2 separate regions of the Homo sapiens genome follow, and region 1 is linked to region 2. The links come from fine-mapping of genetic effects on gene expression. Tissue or cell type: sun-exposed skin. Region 2 holds a variant in brackets; the other region holds the start of a gene. All regions are shown on one strand. Distances are from middle to middle.

Region 1 (8,126 bases), 250 kb before region 2:
TTCTAAGTGAGTCATTTAAGTCCCAGCTAATGGATACCATTAAGAGTTCATTATCATGCTAATAGCAATCAACACTGTGAAGGGGTGGGAACCTCAGCCCATCAAGTGTCCCTTCGCTGCACTTGGCTCTCCTCGCCCCCCTCCCCACCCCTCCTGGGCGCCCCCTCCCCTCCGCTCAGACCTGGGACAATGGCATCTGCTTTGGATAAGACACGGAGCTCGCCGTGCCCGACCGCCACGTCAGGCCAGTGCTGACGTCGCTGTAGAGGGAGCCCCCGCCGCCGCCCGGCCCCCCGCCGCCGCCGGGTCCCCCGCCGCCGCCGCCCCCCGGCCCGCCGCCACCCCCCGCGGCCGTGGCGCCCGCGCCCCCGCCCACCGCGGCGCCCTTGCTGGCCCAGCAGCAGCGGGTGCACAGGGAGCGCCAGGACTCCAGCGTCTTGCCGGACCAGACCCACACGCCCGAGGTGATGCCCACCACTAGGCACATGAAGTACTTGAGCATGAAGACGGCGTAGTCGGGCCTGCGTGCCTGGTCGGGCTGCAGGTCCCGCAGGCACGGGCAGTTGTGCGTGGCCTCCCAGCGCGGGCGGTTGTGCTGCTCGTAGAAGAGGCAGGCGACCACCACCGCGGCGGGCACGGTGTAGAGCACGGTGAACAGGCCCAGGCGGATCATCAGCTTCTCCAGCTTGTGCGTCTTGGTGGGGCCGTCCTGTTGCTTGATGACCGAGCGGATGCGGAAGAGGGACACGAAGCCGGCCAGCAGGAACATGGTGCCGATGAAGAGGTAGATGACCAGCGGCGCCAGCACGAAGCCGCGCAGGTTGTCCAGGCTCTGGTTGCCCACGTAGCAGATGCCCGCCACCGGGTCGCCGTCCACCGAGCTGAGCGCCAGCACCGCGATGGACTTGACGCTGGGCACAAGCCACGCGGCCAGGTGGAAGTACTGCGAGTAGCCGGCGATGGCTTCGTTGCCCCACTTCATACCGGCCGCCAGGAACCATGTGAGCGACAAGATCACCCACCAGATGGAGCTGGCCATGCCGAAGAAGTAGACCAGCAAGAAGACCACGGTGCACAGCGCGGGGCCGGTGGTCTCGTAGCGCACGTGCTGCTCCACCGCGCCCAGCTCCTCGTACTCGCCGCGCCCGCCCGGGCCGCCCGCGCCCGCGCCCGCCGCGCCCGCGCCCGCCGCCGCGCCGCCCGCGCCCCCAGCGCCCCCCGCGCCCGGCGCGCCACCGCTGCACGCCACCTTCTCGTGGCCCGCCACCAGGCGCACTAGGTAGCCCACCGACACGAAGAGGTAGCAGGCCGAGAGGAAGATAATGGGCCGCTCCGGGTACTTGAAGCGCTCCATGTCGATAAGGAAGGTGGAGACGGTGGCGAAGGTGGACACGAAGCAGAGCACCGACCACAGGCCGATCCAGAAGACGGTGAAGGCGCGCTCGTCCTGGCTGAAAAAGGGGTTGTGGCAGGGCAGCGCGCAGTTAGCGATCTGGCCTGTCTTGACGCGGTTGTAGAGCGGGTGGCGCTCGCTGGACACGCTCACCATAGGCGCGCGGCACTGGCACCCGGGCTCGCAGGGAGCCGCGCCGCCGCCAGGGGGCCGCGCCTTCCCGCCACCGCCGCCGCCGCGAGCTGGGGGCGCCGCCGCGTCCCCGCCGCCACCGCCCCTGCCGCCGCCGCGGTGCGGGGGCCTGGCCCCCGGCGGGCGGCCGTGGCCGCTGCCCGAAGGCGGCTGCTCGCCGGGCGGCGGCGGCGGCAGGCGGCGCGGCGGGCTGGGCGCGGCGGTGGTTAGGTCGGTGCGGTTGTAGTCCATGCACAGCGTGTCAGGGTTGCCTTGCTCGGGCAGCCGGTCGCAGCGCATGCGGTCGGGCCAGGCGAAGCCGTACTGGCGCATGAGCGGCGCGCAGCCGGCCTTGGCGCGCTCGCACACCGAGCGGCAGGGCGGCAGCGGCTTCTTGTAGTCCTCTAGGCAGATGGGCGTGTACATGCTGCACAGGAAGAACTTGAGATCGGGCGAGCACTGGATCTCCACCAGCGGCCAGAACTGGTGCACCTCCAGGCCCGCCTCGTCTTGCGTGTCGTGGTTGAACTGATTGGGCATGTAGGTGTAGTTGTAGCCGATGCCCTTACACAGCGGCACGGTGATCTCTTGGCATGCCAGCTCCTTGGCCGAGGCGGCCGCAGCGCCGCTAGAGCGCTGCAGCAGCGCCAAGGCGGCCAGCAGCGAGGTCACTTCCAACAGGTAACCCCACTCCATGCTGTGCGCCTCGGCCCGGTGCCCTCGCCCTCCAGGCGGCGCGCAGAGGGGTGCCGGGGGGGGGGCCCACGAGAGAGCCGCAGACGGGTACAGCGGGTGATCTGGGGTCTCCCTTATGCTTCGCCCGGGAGGGGGGTCTGCCGATAATCTAACCCCTTCTAGGGGCGCGTCCGCAGCGGCGCGGCCCGCAGCCTGGGCAGGGCCCTTCCGCACTCCTTTCCGCCGCTCCGGGGGTTTGAAGGCGGCTGCAGGCGCGCGCCACAGTCCGTAGGTCCGCTCTGCTGGCCCCGGGTCGCGCTCAGCCCTCGCGGCGCAGAGCGGCCGGGCCTCGGCTCATCGTCCCGCGCTCGCTCGCCTCCTCTCCGCGCGCCCGACCACTTCTCCCCGCCGCGCCGGGCGGCGGTGACTCCGCCGGACAGAGAGGGCGGAGGCGCCGCAAGTTTCCTCTGGGGCCGCGGTGCGCAGTCAAGATGGCTGGGCCGGGCCGCTTGCCGCGCCGGGTCAGCCCTGGCGGCCACCACTCGGCCCCCGGGGGCTCATGCCCGCCCCCAAGGCCAAGCCGCCGCCGCCGCCGCCGGAGTTGGGGACCCGCCTCGGCCCAGGCCGCCGCCCTCTTTCTCCGGCGTCCGTCCTTCGTCCGTCCGCCGCCGGGACAGACGGACCCCCGCCGCCTGGAAAAGTCAGCGCCGCGCTCCGGCCGCAGTCGGGCGAGGTGCACACAGTCTCCTTCCTGCTGGACACCCAGGAGCAAATCCAGACCGGAAGGCGGAGCGGACACCTGAGTGGCGCGGCCCGCGCCCAGCCGCCGCCTCCTCCTCGGCGGGAGCAGCGCCCTTAGCCCAACTTCCCGGCTCCAGCCCCGCTCGCGCCGCGCTGCCGGCTCATGAATATTTATACAGCGCGGACTCGGTCTCCGCCCCCAGCCCCGCGAGCCAATCGCCGGGCGGTAGGGCGGAGTCCACGCGCTCCCAGGGCTCAGCCTTCCTTAAGGCAGTCCCCGAGTGTCCGCACTGCTGTGCGCGCTCTCTGCGGATGGAGAGTTTTGGTAACCTTGGGATTGACCGCAGAGACAGAGTGTTGGCCATGGCTGTCCCCATGGCGCTGAGTGCGTCGGAGGTCTTGGTCCCCTTACCCCGAGTCTGCCCTTGGGGACAGGGACGGGGTTTGGTGCAGCGCGCGCCTCCCCGGCGCGTTTCAAACCAGCCAAGCCCCTGCTGCCACCCTCCGCAAATGTGGGTGATCTGCAGGCGGCTGGGGTCTCGTGCTCCTCGGGGCGGCAGGAAGGTCTCGCAGCAGGCGAGCGCCGGGGAGGCCTGCCGGGGCTCGGCGCTGCAGAAGACCCGGGAAAGGGTGTCCTCCTTGGGGTTCTCAGAACGATGGTTTCTGAGACTTGGAGATGTGGGGGGTGTGGAGTCATTCTAAACTGGGGCTGGACCCGGGACGGCCCGGGTGAGATGCCCCGGAGCCCAGCCTTGGGCGCGCGAGGGGCGCGGGGGACAAATGCCCGCCAGAGACTCTCCTCCCGCCTCCGCTGCGTGACCTGGGGGAGCCTCAGTTTCCCCACCTAGAGAGTTGGGTGATCATAGCACAGATCTCCAAGGGGGCTTTGATAATTAGGTGAGATAAAATATAGGAAGCCCCGAGCCGCCGTGCTTTCTTAGGAAAAATCATTCAATTTCTTTCTAAAATTCAAAACAAACCTCGAAACTTATAAATAGGACAGGCTGGAAACTCTGGGGCTGGATTCCCTGTCTTCCCTTCGTTCTTTCAGGACGTCTATTCATCCATCCCAAGTTCACAGGCTTTTGCCAGAGCCTCCTTTTCTCTGGTGGGAGGCGGCGCTGCGCTCTGGCGTGGACTCCGCGACACGTATCTGCTCTCTGCACGAGGCCGGAGCCGGACCCGGGCTGCTTTTAGCAGCCGCTTGGGCCACCGCCAGCGAACGCTGCCCCCGCCGGCTCCGCCGCCACCTTAAGACGGGCCGGGAGGGGGGCTGCGGGCGGCCCGGGCCGGCGGCCTGGCAGGTTCATTTACGCTTGTTAGGGCGTCCCAGGGGGCTGTCTTTCTCCTAGAATGGAGTGTTTATTTTTTAATTGATGTGCTGTTTCATTTAGCGCTTGTATGGAACTCATGCTGGGGCAGTAATTACTGTAATCTCGGGAACAAGCATTTCAGTTAGCCAGGAGGGTGGCAGAATATGTTTCTCTCTCTCTTTCTCTCCCTCCCTCCCGCCTCCTCCCCATCTCCGTCCCCCTCTCTCCCTCTTCCTCCCTGCCTCTCTTCTGTCTTCCCTCTCTCTCTCTCCCCACCTCCTTTCCTTCTCTCTCTCCCCCACCACTTTCTCTCCCCCCTCCTCCTCTTCCCCTCCTCCCTCTCCTTCCTTCCCTCCCTTTTCTCTCCGCTCTCTCACTCTCTTCTTGTTTCAAGATTTTTGCTATTTGCCAGGTTTCATACCGGAACAAGTACAGTTGGAGAACAAAAGTTGCAGAGGGCGTGGGGACAGAGCAAAAGAATTAAAAGTACATTTGAGGCCAGTTCCGGTTTTCGGGGCGCTGCTGGTGGTGGTGGTAGCTCGTGGTTGTCCGTTCAGAAACAACTCTTGTCATAAAACAAAAATAACCAGCAGTATTTGTAGATTGCTTGAGCTGATGGCATCTATGTCTTCCTCCTCCTGCTTTCTGTAGCTCAGTTAGCAACCTCATTATGAAACATATTACAAGTAGACTGTCAGACCGCACCCTGCCCCAGCGCCCCGTTTTTGGCAAGTTCTGTGTTCTAGGCATATCCACCAATCTATAGTTATACCCCCCTATCTTTTTAACTTTTTTAGTTTTAGTCTATAGAGTTGAACCTCTTTATACTGAAAAACAACACTTCCTTCCCACTTTTGTTTTGGAAAAACTAAAGTCCGTAGGAATTCGGAATTCAAAGGCTTCAGAAATATTAGCTGATTCAGCAGAAAACGGGCTATTCAAAAATACAGACTAGACCTTTACTTGATTAAAAAATTTTTTTTCTTTTCTCACCTCCTGCAAATCGGAATTCCCACTTGTATGTTGAATGTAGAAATTCACTATCTCTGCGGTTGGCACCTTGTTTCCAGAGGGCGAGTCTCCAGAACGCATCAGCTGCAGGTAATTGCCAGAGGTTCCAGTGCTGATCTGAGGGCAGCGGTGCAGGCAGAGCCCCAAAGACCAGCAAGGGTGCTGCACTGCCCGCACCACAGATGGGAGGGGCTGGTTTCCAAGAGCAACACAGATGGTGAAAAGTTTCTGTTGCTTTTCTTCCACGGGGAAATGTCAAATAGTGAAGTTTAGAATTACACTACATAAATTTGCTAGAATTGGGTAAAAACAAACTGACATTTGAAAATTGAAATTGAAGCTGAAAATGGTTGATTTTGGCTCTTAATTGGCTTTAAATTTTTTTTCTTTTTTCTTTTGAGACAAGATGAAAAGTTTGATGATGTGGAATGTGGAAATTTTGGGTAAGTATGTTAAGTTTGCATGAGAAAATAAGCAGACTGAAGTTCAGAATTTCAAAAATCATATCAGCTATTTGGGAGATCTTAGTGATTTGTGAGGTTAAAACCAGTTACATAAAAGTCATGACAAATGTACTTTTAATTGAGAGAATATAAGAATCGCATTTTACATCTACTGTTAAATTAAACGGCTACTTGGTAGTCTTTCAGAGAAGGGAGAGACTTCTGTAGCCAATTAGTGCGTAAAAGGTAATGATGGGTTACCTAGAAGTAACCAGAACATATATCAACTTCTATGGCTAAATAATGATATTTTCATTGTATGTAAAGCAGCTGTTTTTTAGGGGAGGGGAAATAGCTTTAGTAGTGACATAAATAATGTAGGGAAGTTTCTAAAGGGATTTCTGAGCAGATGGCTTGTTGCTGAATGGCCTGCAAGCAAATAATGTAAACAGTTGGAATCAGGAATCTACCTCAGAGGAGGGAAGGTTTTACAAAACGTTGGCTACCGAGTTAGACAGGGGACTATCAATACTGTCTGTAACAAATTTAAGAAACTTTGGGGAAATCATGTTCCAGTGGATTACCATCTAAAAATCCAATATAAGAATCTGGATGGAAGAGAGAGCCTGGCATATACTAACAGAATGATACGTTCCAAAGATTAAATGAGGAACTCTTTGGTAACTAATACAATTTCTCAGGTGTTATAAACTGCCAAATATTGGCCAGATACGGTGACTCATGCCTGTAATCCCAGCACTTTGGGACGCTGAGGCAGGCAGATCGCTTGAGTCTAGGAGTTCGAGACCAGCCTGGGCAACATAGCAAAACCCTGTCTCTACAAAAAATACAAACATGAGCTGGGTGCGGTGGCATGTGCCTGTAGTCCCAGCTACACCAGAGGCTGAGGTGGGAGGATCACTTGAGTTTTGGAGGCTGGGGCTGCAGTGAGCCATGACTGTATCACTGCACTCCAGCCTGGGCAACAGAGTAAGACCCTGTCTCTAAATAAATAAATGCCAAATATTATTTTCTCTCAAGAAAACAGTTAAGTACTATATTATTAGATAATATAAAATTCTTATCACTGGCTGGGCTCAGTGGCTTACGTTTGTCTTAGTGCTTTGGGAGGCCAAGGTGGAAGGATCGCTTGAGGCCAGGAGTTGGAGAGCAGTCTGAGCAACATAGTAAGACCCGAGTCTACCAAAAAAAAAAAAACCAAAAACAAAACAACAACAACAACAAAAAAAACAACAAAAAAACAAGGCCAGGCACGGTGGTTGTTCACGCCTGTAATCCTAGCACTTTGGGAAGCCGAGGTCAGAGGATCACTAGAGGTCAGGAGTTCGAGACCAGCCTGGCTAACATGGGGAATCCTTGTCTCTGCCAAAAATACAAAAATTAGCTGGACATGGTGGTGGGTGCCTGTAATCCCAGCTACTTGGGAGACTCAGGCAAGAGAATTGCTTGAACCTGGGAGGCAGAGGTTGCAGTGAGCTGAGATTTTGCCACTGCACTCCAACCTGGGCAACACAGTAAGAGTCTGTCTAAAACAAAAAAAAAAATTAGTCGGGCCTGTAGCACGCACCTGTGGTCCCAGCTACTTGAGGCGCTGAGGTGGGAGGATCGCTTGAGTCCATGAGTTTGAGGCTGTAGTGAGCCGTGATCATGCCTGTACTCCAGGTTAGGTAATAGAAAGAGACCCTGTCTCAAAAAAAAAAAAAAAAAAAAAAAAAAGACAAAACCCACAACAACAATAACAAAACCTCTAATGGTAATATTGGGGCATCTTGGTGTTTTAAAAATCTGCCTTTCAAAGGGTTATGTCTTGAGTCTCTCAGTCCATAAATGGAAGGGGAGGTAGAGGTGAACTGGCCTCATCAATCTCTGCTAGCTTTAAACAGGTGAGATTATTTTTATATTCTTCCTTATTAACATGAAACTCAATTGAAGTGCTGCTGCTTCTGTTCTCTCCACTGCCAGGAAAGAGATCCTGTTGGAAGGAAGTACTCTTTGCTGTGTCTGCTGTCACCAGGCCAAGGTGCACATGGATGGAGATAACAGGCCCACCTGTGCCACTGGCTGGCAGGCCCATGCTCACTTTACATGCAGCTGCTGCTTTGGAATACGGCGACCGCACTGCCATTATTTAAGTTGATAATTATTCTAAAATTTGTTTTAAAAATCAATAATTGATTTTTTTTCTCATCCACATGGGAATATTTGCCAGATATTGAAGCTCTTATTATGGCATGCATTGTGCATTAGTTTGGTAGATTTCAGGTCCAGTAAAGACCTCCCGGGTAAAAGTGGCTTAGCCAAGAAGGACATCTCAACATATCAATAAGTCTAGAAGCAGACATTTCACCGTCAGTTCTT
Region 2 (8,147 bases):
CTTCTCCCTTCCCCATTATTGTCAAACCATCCACTTGCCTTCTTTGATCTTGCTTGTTGCATGGAAATAACTCTAAGGATTGTCAGTCTGTATAAAATTCATTGCAAAACCGGATGGCAGTACAGAAATAACAAACGTCCCATTCCACTTCAGTCCAATTCAGACAATGGAACAGAAATAAAAGATTCCAAAACTATGGTATATTTAAATTTAATAAAGCCCTTTTCACCCTCCAGACCCCCAGTTTTCCAAATAAACTCATAACAAATATTCCACGTGAGCCTTGTCAGGCAGTTTTAATATTCAGTGTCCCACAGCAGCACCGAATCTAAGGAGAGCAGCATAAGGCATTTATATAATTGCACAAATTAGAGATACCCCGAATGAAAGGTTTCCTGCTGGTTTTTCTCTGCTCTTTCATTTGTTGGTTACAGAATTAGGAGTGCTCCTGCTGTGCCGCAGCGTCTCCTCTCCTGGGCTGCATGCAGAGCACCACTGCACCACACCCCTCTGATAATGGCTATCTGGGGCACCTGAATGAGTAGCCTGTCCCCAGGGCTCCTGCCTGGGGACAGGCTGCTCCTCCAGCCCAGGTGGCTCCTGAGCGAGCGGCCACCTGGATGCACGCCTCCTTCTGTGCATGCCTCCCCACGCCTCCAACCCAACTCCACAGTCTGCAAAGTGACAGCCAGAGATTAGGCGAAACCTTGCATGACACATTTGTATGAGATAGCTTATCTTTCCGTGCCTTTGTTTATAAATTGTCCTTTAAAAAGTCCTGGAAGGTTAACTCCCCTTGAAATGATTTGCCGGAAGCACCTTCTGCAGATTGAAAACAGTTAATGTTTGAACATTTTTAGAACACGGGTAACTAATGGAAATATTTGATTCCACGTAGTTTAACGAAGAGTTTGTTTCTTCTTTCAGAGGTGTTGGCTGGTTTAGTGGAAAGAGGATTAAGAGCTTACAGGCCTGGTTGAAGGTGCTGCACTGCTCCCTAACCAGTTGTGTCATCCTTAGCAAACTTCCCTCCCTAACTTGGTTTCTCATTTGTCAAATTGCAAAAATATAATGTCCACCTCGCCTGTTTTATGTGATACCTGTTAGAATCAGGGAAGATAACTTTATGTTAACCATAAAAGCACTTTATATTATTATGAAGGTAAAAAATCATGTAGTAAAAGGTGCATGTATTTTAGTCAGGAACCCTGGACTTAAGTGCTGACTCTACCACGTGCTGTGTGATCAAATGTAGGTCAGCTCATCTATCTGATTTCATTTTTATTTTAACTTGTAAAATAATTTCCTCATTTGTCTCTCAACTAGGACAGTGTAAATGCAAGCTCTTTGTAAAACTGCAAAAGTAGTAAATCACAAATAAATATTCACGAGGTGTCAGGAATTGTGCTAGGTGTACAGTGTATTCTTTATTCTTTATAATATTTATTGTTATTATTTGAAAAAAGTTATTTTATTTTCTATTTTAGATTCACAGGGTATGTGTGCAGGTTTGTTACATGGGAATATTGTATGATGTGAAGTTTGGGCTTCTATTGATCCCATCGCCCACACAGTGAACATAGTACCCAATAGGTAGTTTTTCAACCCTTGCCCCTCTCTTTTCCTCCCTCTTTTTAGAATCCCCAGTGTTTGTTGTTCCCATGGTTGTGTCTGTGTGTATGTTTTTTGTTTCAAGAGATGGGCTCTTGCTATGTTTCCCAGGCTGGCCTCAAACCCCTGGGCTCAAGTGATTCTCCCACCTTGGCCTCCCGAGTAGCTGCCATTGCAGATGTGCACCACCATGCTGGGCAACAGTGTGTTCTTTTATCATCACAGTGACCCTTTGAGGGGAATAATTATTATCCCAGTTTCCAGCTGAGAAAACTGAGGCTCTGATAAGTGGAGCCAACATTCAATCACACATTTGTTTCACTGCTGAGCCTGTTTTTAATCACTGTCCACACAGCCACAATTACTGTTTTACTTTTATTGTTTCAGCCAATGACAGTGACATAATGAAGGCACGGAGGATGTTATTTCCTCAGAGATATGGGTTCTTATGGTTGACCTGGTAACATTACATTTACAGAGCACCTTATGTATTCCTCAATTATAATTGCATTTCCACAAGAAATGTTAAGTACTAACTCCCTAAAAGACTGTGAGAAGGGAGAAGACCTCAGTGACCTTGATCCCACCCCTCACGAGTTAGCTCTACTGCTAACAATTATTGAGTACTGAATTTCTCACTTACTAGATTCCTACTTTAGTACAGTGAATGATATCTCCTCTATGTTGCCTTTGGTCATTTATATTAATAAAATGAGGAGGCGAGCACAGGGAAACACAAATATATTATGCGAGGCTCTCTGATAAAGGATTTTTATCATAAAGGGCTGAATTTCTAAGCTGAGCATGGGTACTTGTTATTTATTTATGTATTTATTCATTTATTTATGTTGGCTTTAGAGTATTCACTTCCTTGTTATTGGATAATAACTATTAGAAGAGAAATTTGTCACTCCTCCTTCTGGTCCCCCCTGCACTTATTCTGTGTCTGATAGCGTTGGTGGGTTAGCAGGGGATGATTTTCTATATAGCCCACGCTTGATGATTCTGCATAGAGAATAGTAAAGACCAAAATTAGCAGGGTTGGAGGTAAGAATGAAAAGGACTTCAGAAAAGAGAAAAGGGTTTTCATTCCGTAGAAACGATTTGTGCTCTAAGGATCTGCCACCCAACCAGCCACTGGCTGAGCACCGTCAACATTCTCAGCACTAAGGATGCAAATGCTCTTGGTTGTAGCCTCCTTTCTAGAGGAAAGTTGATCTTGGATAGGGGCTGGGGGTGGGAGCAAAGGGATGGAAATTGCTCACTGGGGCCAGGTGAGGACAAATAACTTTCAGGGAAGAAGAGCAGAAATCTCTTTCATGTAGAAGAGTTGTTTGATCAAATAGTTTCAGATGCTCAAAATCTGTGGTGACCAGAGGGGAGGAATTCAGTTAAGACATCCTTCTACTGAGGATAAACAACATCTTGTGTCTACTATGTTGGCTTACAATTAACCTAACTTGGAGGGAGTTTATATCCTGACTCACAGTTGTATCCTTTATGAAGGAAGTCTCATCAAAAGAAGTCATGGCTCTTGGGGTGCTTTATCTGCAGAAACTGGACTCAGGGCAGGGCTGGGGAAGGTGGAATGGCGGTTGTGGGTCATAGCCACAAAGACCCTGCTGCAAATATGTCATTAAAAGCAGGGAGCTCTGTTGCCTCAAGCCTTGGGGTGAGCCGGGGATCTTCCTTCAGAGTGCTATGCTTCTGACTTTCAAGAAGTGTCTTTCCCTCACAATTCATATAGATTCTTTTATTTGTTGTTTTTTTGACTCCTCCTATAGGCCTGATATGGGAAGAAAAATGAAGAAATGCTCAGCTAAACTCGTTTTGACATGCACCTTTTAACATTCTGCAGCTGCCTCAGCTTTTGATGTATGATTTTTCTTGTTGGTCACTTTGCAAGCCAGGGACTTCTGGCTGGTGATGCCCCACGTGGGCCCTGCTTGCATGCTGGCATGCCCCAGCTTGCCTGTGTTACAGCTTGTACCTACGTTCAGCAGTTCCCAAGCTCCTGTACCACGCCCAAGAAGAATGAAGATATGCTGGA[C/T]ATTGAACGGTGAGGAGGGTGGAGAAGAATTTTATTGAGTGATAAAACAGCTTTCAGCTGAGAGGGGACATGGGGGTGGTCCCCCTACCCAAAGGTGAGAAAGTTCTGCGTGTGGCTGGGTCCAGGGCTTTTTATGAACTCAGAATGGGGATTGCGTGCTAATTGGTTTGTGAATATGCCAAAAAAGTTAAAGTGAAGGCACCACTTAAATGTGGGCATGACAGTGTAGAAAAACCAATTAAATAAGAGTAGGTATATGTAAAATAGGTGAAGGGTGGGGACCAATCAGAGGAAAACACACCAAATGGGAAGACAAGTTCTCAACCTAGTCTGAGGATTTAACTGGTAGCTTGGCTTTCAGGCTTTAAACTGTCTTCGGCTTGGAGGTGGGGTTTCACCAGGAGCCACCCCTATCTGCCCAGGCATTTGGTTGTCTCCTGTCACTATAAATTTCTTTTGCTCTCAAAATACAGTCTCTCCTTGCCTTTTCTGATCTAACTTCAAACCTGATGTGGGTGTGGTGACATTGTTTTCTGAAGTCATAATCAGACACCCCCCGTAATTTCATGATCAAACAACCTCTGTGATCCCATAAGCAGACACCCCTATAATCCCATGAGCAGATGCTCCCTGTGATCCCAATCAGTTGTCCTCGGAGCTCCCTCAAGAGCCCCTGGGCCCCACCTCTTTCATCCCATTACCTGGCACTCTCAGAACCCCTCGCCAATTTCCCCGTTTGAGCACTCCTCCCCAGCAAGCGTCAGAATTTGGGGGAACAAAAAGTAGCTCTTCATCAGGAACAAGTTGCCCTCAACTGAAGGGAGAAGGGTAGAGGGAAAGAGAAATAAATCCCTAACGGCATTATGGATTTCACAGCTCTAGGGTAGATACTTGGAGAAATAAATGCTCTGAGCCACAGTCTGCATATAAAATGGGATGCAGAAAAACTACCCCAATTCTTACCCTTTCCATTCCCTTCTCTTTTCTCTTTCCTTCCTCTTTTCCTACCTTTTCTATTTGTTAAATGCATTTGCTGTTCACAAGGTCTCAGAGAACAGTATGTTTCTAAATGCTTCTCTAAAATGCAGAGGTCTAGTTATATAGTGCCATTAGCATCTTTCTTCTCAACACAAGCTAACCACCTAGAGTCCTGACATTCATTCATGGATTCCTTTGTTCATCTCATTTATTGAGTGTATACTTTGTTCCAGTCCTAGTGTTTCCAAAGGAATAAAAGCAATGACAACTATTATTCGTGGAGTATTTTAATCAGTAGACACTATATTAAGTGTGTAACAGGCAAAATACATTCACAAAATGGTCCCAACAGCTTAATTGTTACTGCCTGTTTTCCAGATGAAAACTGAGGTTTCAAGAATTACATCACTTGGTCAAGGTCAGCAGAGCCCGGGCTGGCACACAGCAGTTTGAGGATGGACTCTAACCTTGCTGTATGCTGTGCTGTTTCTAGGACTGGTTCTCCAACTTTAGCTGCATCAAAATGCCTGGAGGGCTTTTAAAAACATGCTTTTCTAGCCCCTGCTCTCAAAGTCTGTGATTTATAAGCCTGAGAATTCTCATTTCCAATAAGTCCCCAGATGTTGTTAATGGGGATCCCACTTTGAGAACCACTGCTCTATGCTTCTGCTGTGCCCACGGTCTCCCTCAGGTGTATCTGCTTTAGGGAAGGTGAAATGTACCTTGCAATTAATTTGCGGCTTAAATTCATGCTACCTGTAGATGGAAGAACTTTCTTTCCTCACCCGGACTCCAAATGCTACCCTTTTCCTGCCCTGTATCCGCAGTTGTGAAGTCACCCTGGATTCTACTTCTTCTTTTGAGCATTCTAAGAAAATACTCTGGGGAGAAAACCACTTTGGCTTGAAGTGCCGGTTGCTCTTAGTGACGCTGAAGAAGCTACTCCGTGTGTTTCAGGGTACTGGGTATGAAAGTGTGGTACACAATACAGGCTGGTAAAGAATCCCCACATTCGCTTCCGCTCAATACACCAGCATCAGACTCTAGTTGTACTAGAACACCATTCTGAATCCTGAAAACAGATAGCAAAAACAGCAGCTGTACAGGGACTGTTTATTTATGGAATCCCTCACGTAAACAGAGTGAGGGTGATGGATCATCACTCGGCCCATAAACATGACTGTGCTCCGGCAGGGGCCTTGTCCTCATCTGAGCCCACTGACCTCTTCCTGTGTCTGCAAACAGTGGCAAAGCGGAAACAAGGAAAATAGGCGTGAGGAAATGGTGTTGAGTTGCAAAACATGGAGAGAACAATTGGCATTGCGATTCCCAGGACAAGCAGGACCGCAGCCGCTCGCAGAGGCACCAACTTGAGAGGGGATGGTTCTGTTCTCTGGCCCTGAAAGTATGCACTTTCTGCAGCCTTGAATTTGTCCTGCCTCTAAGGAAGTTATTTACAGTTTTGCACAGTGGGATAGTTTTATGAGCCAACCCTCTCATTTTTATGAGGGTTCCCGGGGTAAAGCAGTTATACAATCTTACACCAGCACACCAACTTCAGTGAAGAACAAACAATATAAAGTAGGCCATCCAGACCCATAAAGCAGGCAACACTGAACAGTCGTGATTTCAGTTCAGTTCAGAGGTGACCTGGCTTATTACGATAAGATAGAGGAATGAACAGGGCCTACGCAGAGAGAGCGAGCAAGTGAGTGGGAAATAAATAATTCATTGTCTCCTTCCAGAAGCTGTAAGTTGAAGGGACAGAAATCTTGTTATCAGAAAAAGGACCAAAATTCAATTGCTAGAATGTTCTTTCAAATTACTTTTCAGATTTGTTGGTTGAAGGAAATGACATCACCTTCTACCAAATATTTGGTAAGCAATCCATCATCAACACAAGGCTTTCAGATTTTAACATGGCTTTCTATGTATAACAAACCAACTTTTCCTCCCTGAACTTGTGGAGAATGAGGTCTCTGGGTGTGCTTGTATTTACAAATGAGTTTGCTAAGCTTTGACTTCATAAGAAGACAAGGTTAATTAGGAGCTAGACTGTGGATCTTAAATTTATCGGCAGGCTAAGTAGCTGGTGACTGCCCCAATCAGAGTCAGCTTCCAGGAAATGAAACGGGACTTATTTACATTTAGAGTGATGCCCAGCTTCTTAATCACCTCAAAGCATTTACAGATTAACTTTACTACCAGCAGTTCAAGAGGTAGAATGAACCCTGGGAGGGCATGTGCTTCTCTGTCTCCCTCTTCTTCTGGAGCTGCCAATTCCTTATTTCAGCCTGTGTTCCTTGCCTGTATCTTTTTGCTAAACCCTGGAAAGTTTCTTTCTGATGCTGTTCTGTGAAATGTTCTGTGAAATAATCTGTGGTTTATTTGGTAAGCCTCCTGATAAAGCAGTTTTCTAAAACCTTACCAGAATTGCTAAGGATCACCAGCATGGCCTGGTATATGTGCACAATATAAGGCAGAAATCATTCTGGTAAACTTTCTTTGATAGAAAATATTTCTATTAAATTGTTGGGTTATTATGGATTGCACATGCTGGATAACAGAGGTGACCCCAGGCTTCTCACGTGGCTCTGTGGTTGCTTATAAATGAACACTAGTAAGGATTAGATAAATTTTTGATTAGAAATTTCTAGTTAGCCAATAAAAGTGACCAGAGCAGTTAGGATGATAGCTACATATATCAGTGGCAGTTTCAGTCACATTTTAGTTTAACACAATCTCCAATTCAATTTGAAATTTTTATTATGGTATTTTAATCTGCAGTCTCTAATTACTTTACAGTTTCTCAGCAGAGAATAAGAGTTGCTGGTGGGCTGTGAGTGATAATAATACCTTCCCTGCCTTATCCAAAGAACTGCTGTAAAGATTTATAAGATTTTTTTTTTGTCAACTGAAAGGAGTTGTGCAAATATAAGCTATCGTGACATTCCATTCTTTACTATTTTAATAACATATTTACCCATATTTTTGTTTTAGTTTTAAAAATTGAAACTACATAAAATGCTACCTCTTTAAAATCATTATGGTTTTTTCTTTATGCAATAAGCTACTACGCAAAATCTTTAAAGAAAACTGTCTTCTAGAAGGAATTAATGAAAAAAATGGTCCCATTTGGTGCATTGTCAAGAGTACCTTTTTGGTTATAGAGCAAAGAATGGAATATTTATTTGCATTTAAAGGGTGCGTATGCCTTATATGTAGAAATCCAATACACTAGGAATTTGGATAGGATGGAGACCCTTCCTTCTTGCTAAATGACAGCAGCTATGAGTCCAAGAAATAGGTTTTTGGGGTTTCAACTTTGACTATAGAAGTCAGTTGCTTATTTCAGCAAAATGTGGTACACTTGGGTTCTAAGAGCCAATTCTTAAAAAATGAGCAGCAGCCAGCGAGTCTGGCTTTGTATCTTCATTATAGGCAGAACGTTCTATACTTTACTGTTCGTATTGTGCCACGTCTGCTGGAGGAAGATTGGCGGCTACAC

Alleles and levels. Alleles are on the strand shown, and positions count from the first base shown. SD is a standard deviation of normalised expression in the study named.
As copies of C replace T in region 2, the expression in sun-exposed skin of the gene that starts at base 3,127 in region 1 goes down (moderate effect, 0.50 SD a copy in GTEx).

The links. PIP is the estimated chance that this variant, and not a neighbour inherited with it, causes the effect.
Region 1: FZD8 starts here. The variant in region 2 is fine-mapped to the expression of FZD8 in sun-exposed skin (GTEx, PIP above 0.99). The same link has a PIP of 0.9 or more in unexposed skin.

What each region holds. Positions count from the first base shown.
Region 1 is chr10:35,639,170-35,647,295 of GRCh38, forward strand. FZD8 (frizzled class receptor 8) reads right to left here and starts at 3,127. Exons shown (of 1, transcript NM_031866.3): 1 at 1-3,127. The coding sequence starts at 2,260. The coding sequence ends at 176. LOC124902528 (zinc finger protein 469-like) reads right to left here and starts at 3,677. Exons shown (of 2, transcript XM_047426128.1): 1 at 3,461-3,677; 2 at 2,559-3,244. The coding sequence starts at 3,677. The coding sequence ends at 2,559. It overlaps MIR4683 (microRNA 4683), which reads right to left and starts at 2,083; the gene lies at 2,003-2,083. LOC105376494 (a long non-coding RNA gene) reads left to right here and starts at 4,146. Exons shown (of 2, transcript XR_930820.3): 1 at 4,146-5,747; 2 at 7,731-8,126. RefSeq lists enhancers at 1-496, 1,316-1,475 and silencers at 752-1,046, 1,586-1,675.
Region 2 is chr10:35,884,312-35,892,458 of GRCh38, forward strand. No RefSeq gene overlaps it. Among named protein-coding and RNA genes, the nearest start is that of LINC02630, 10 kb to the right of the region's middle. The variant C/T (reference allele first, on the strand shown) is at 3,662.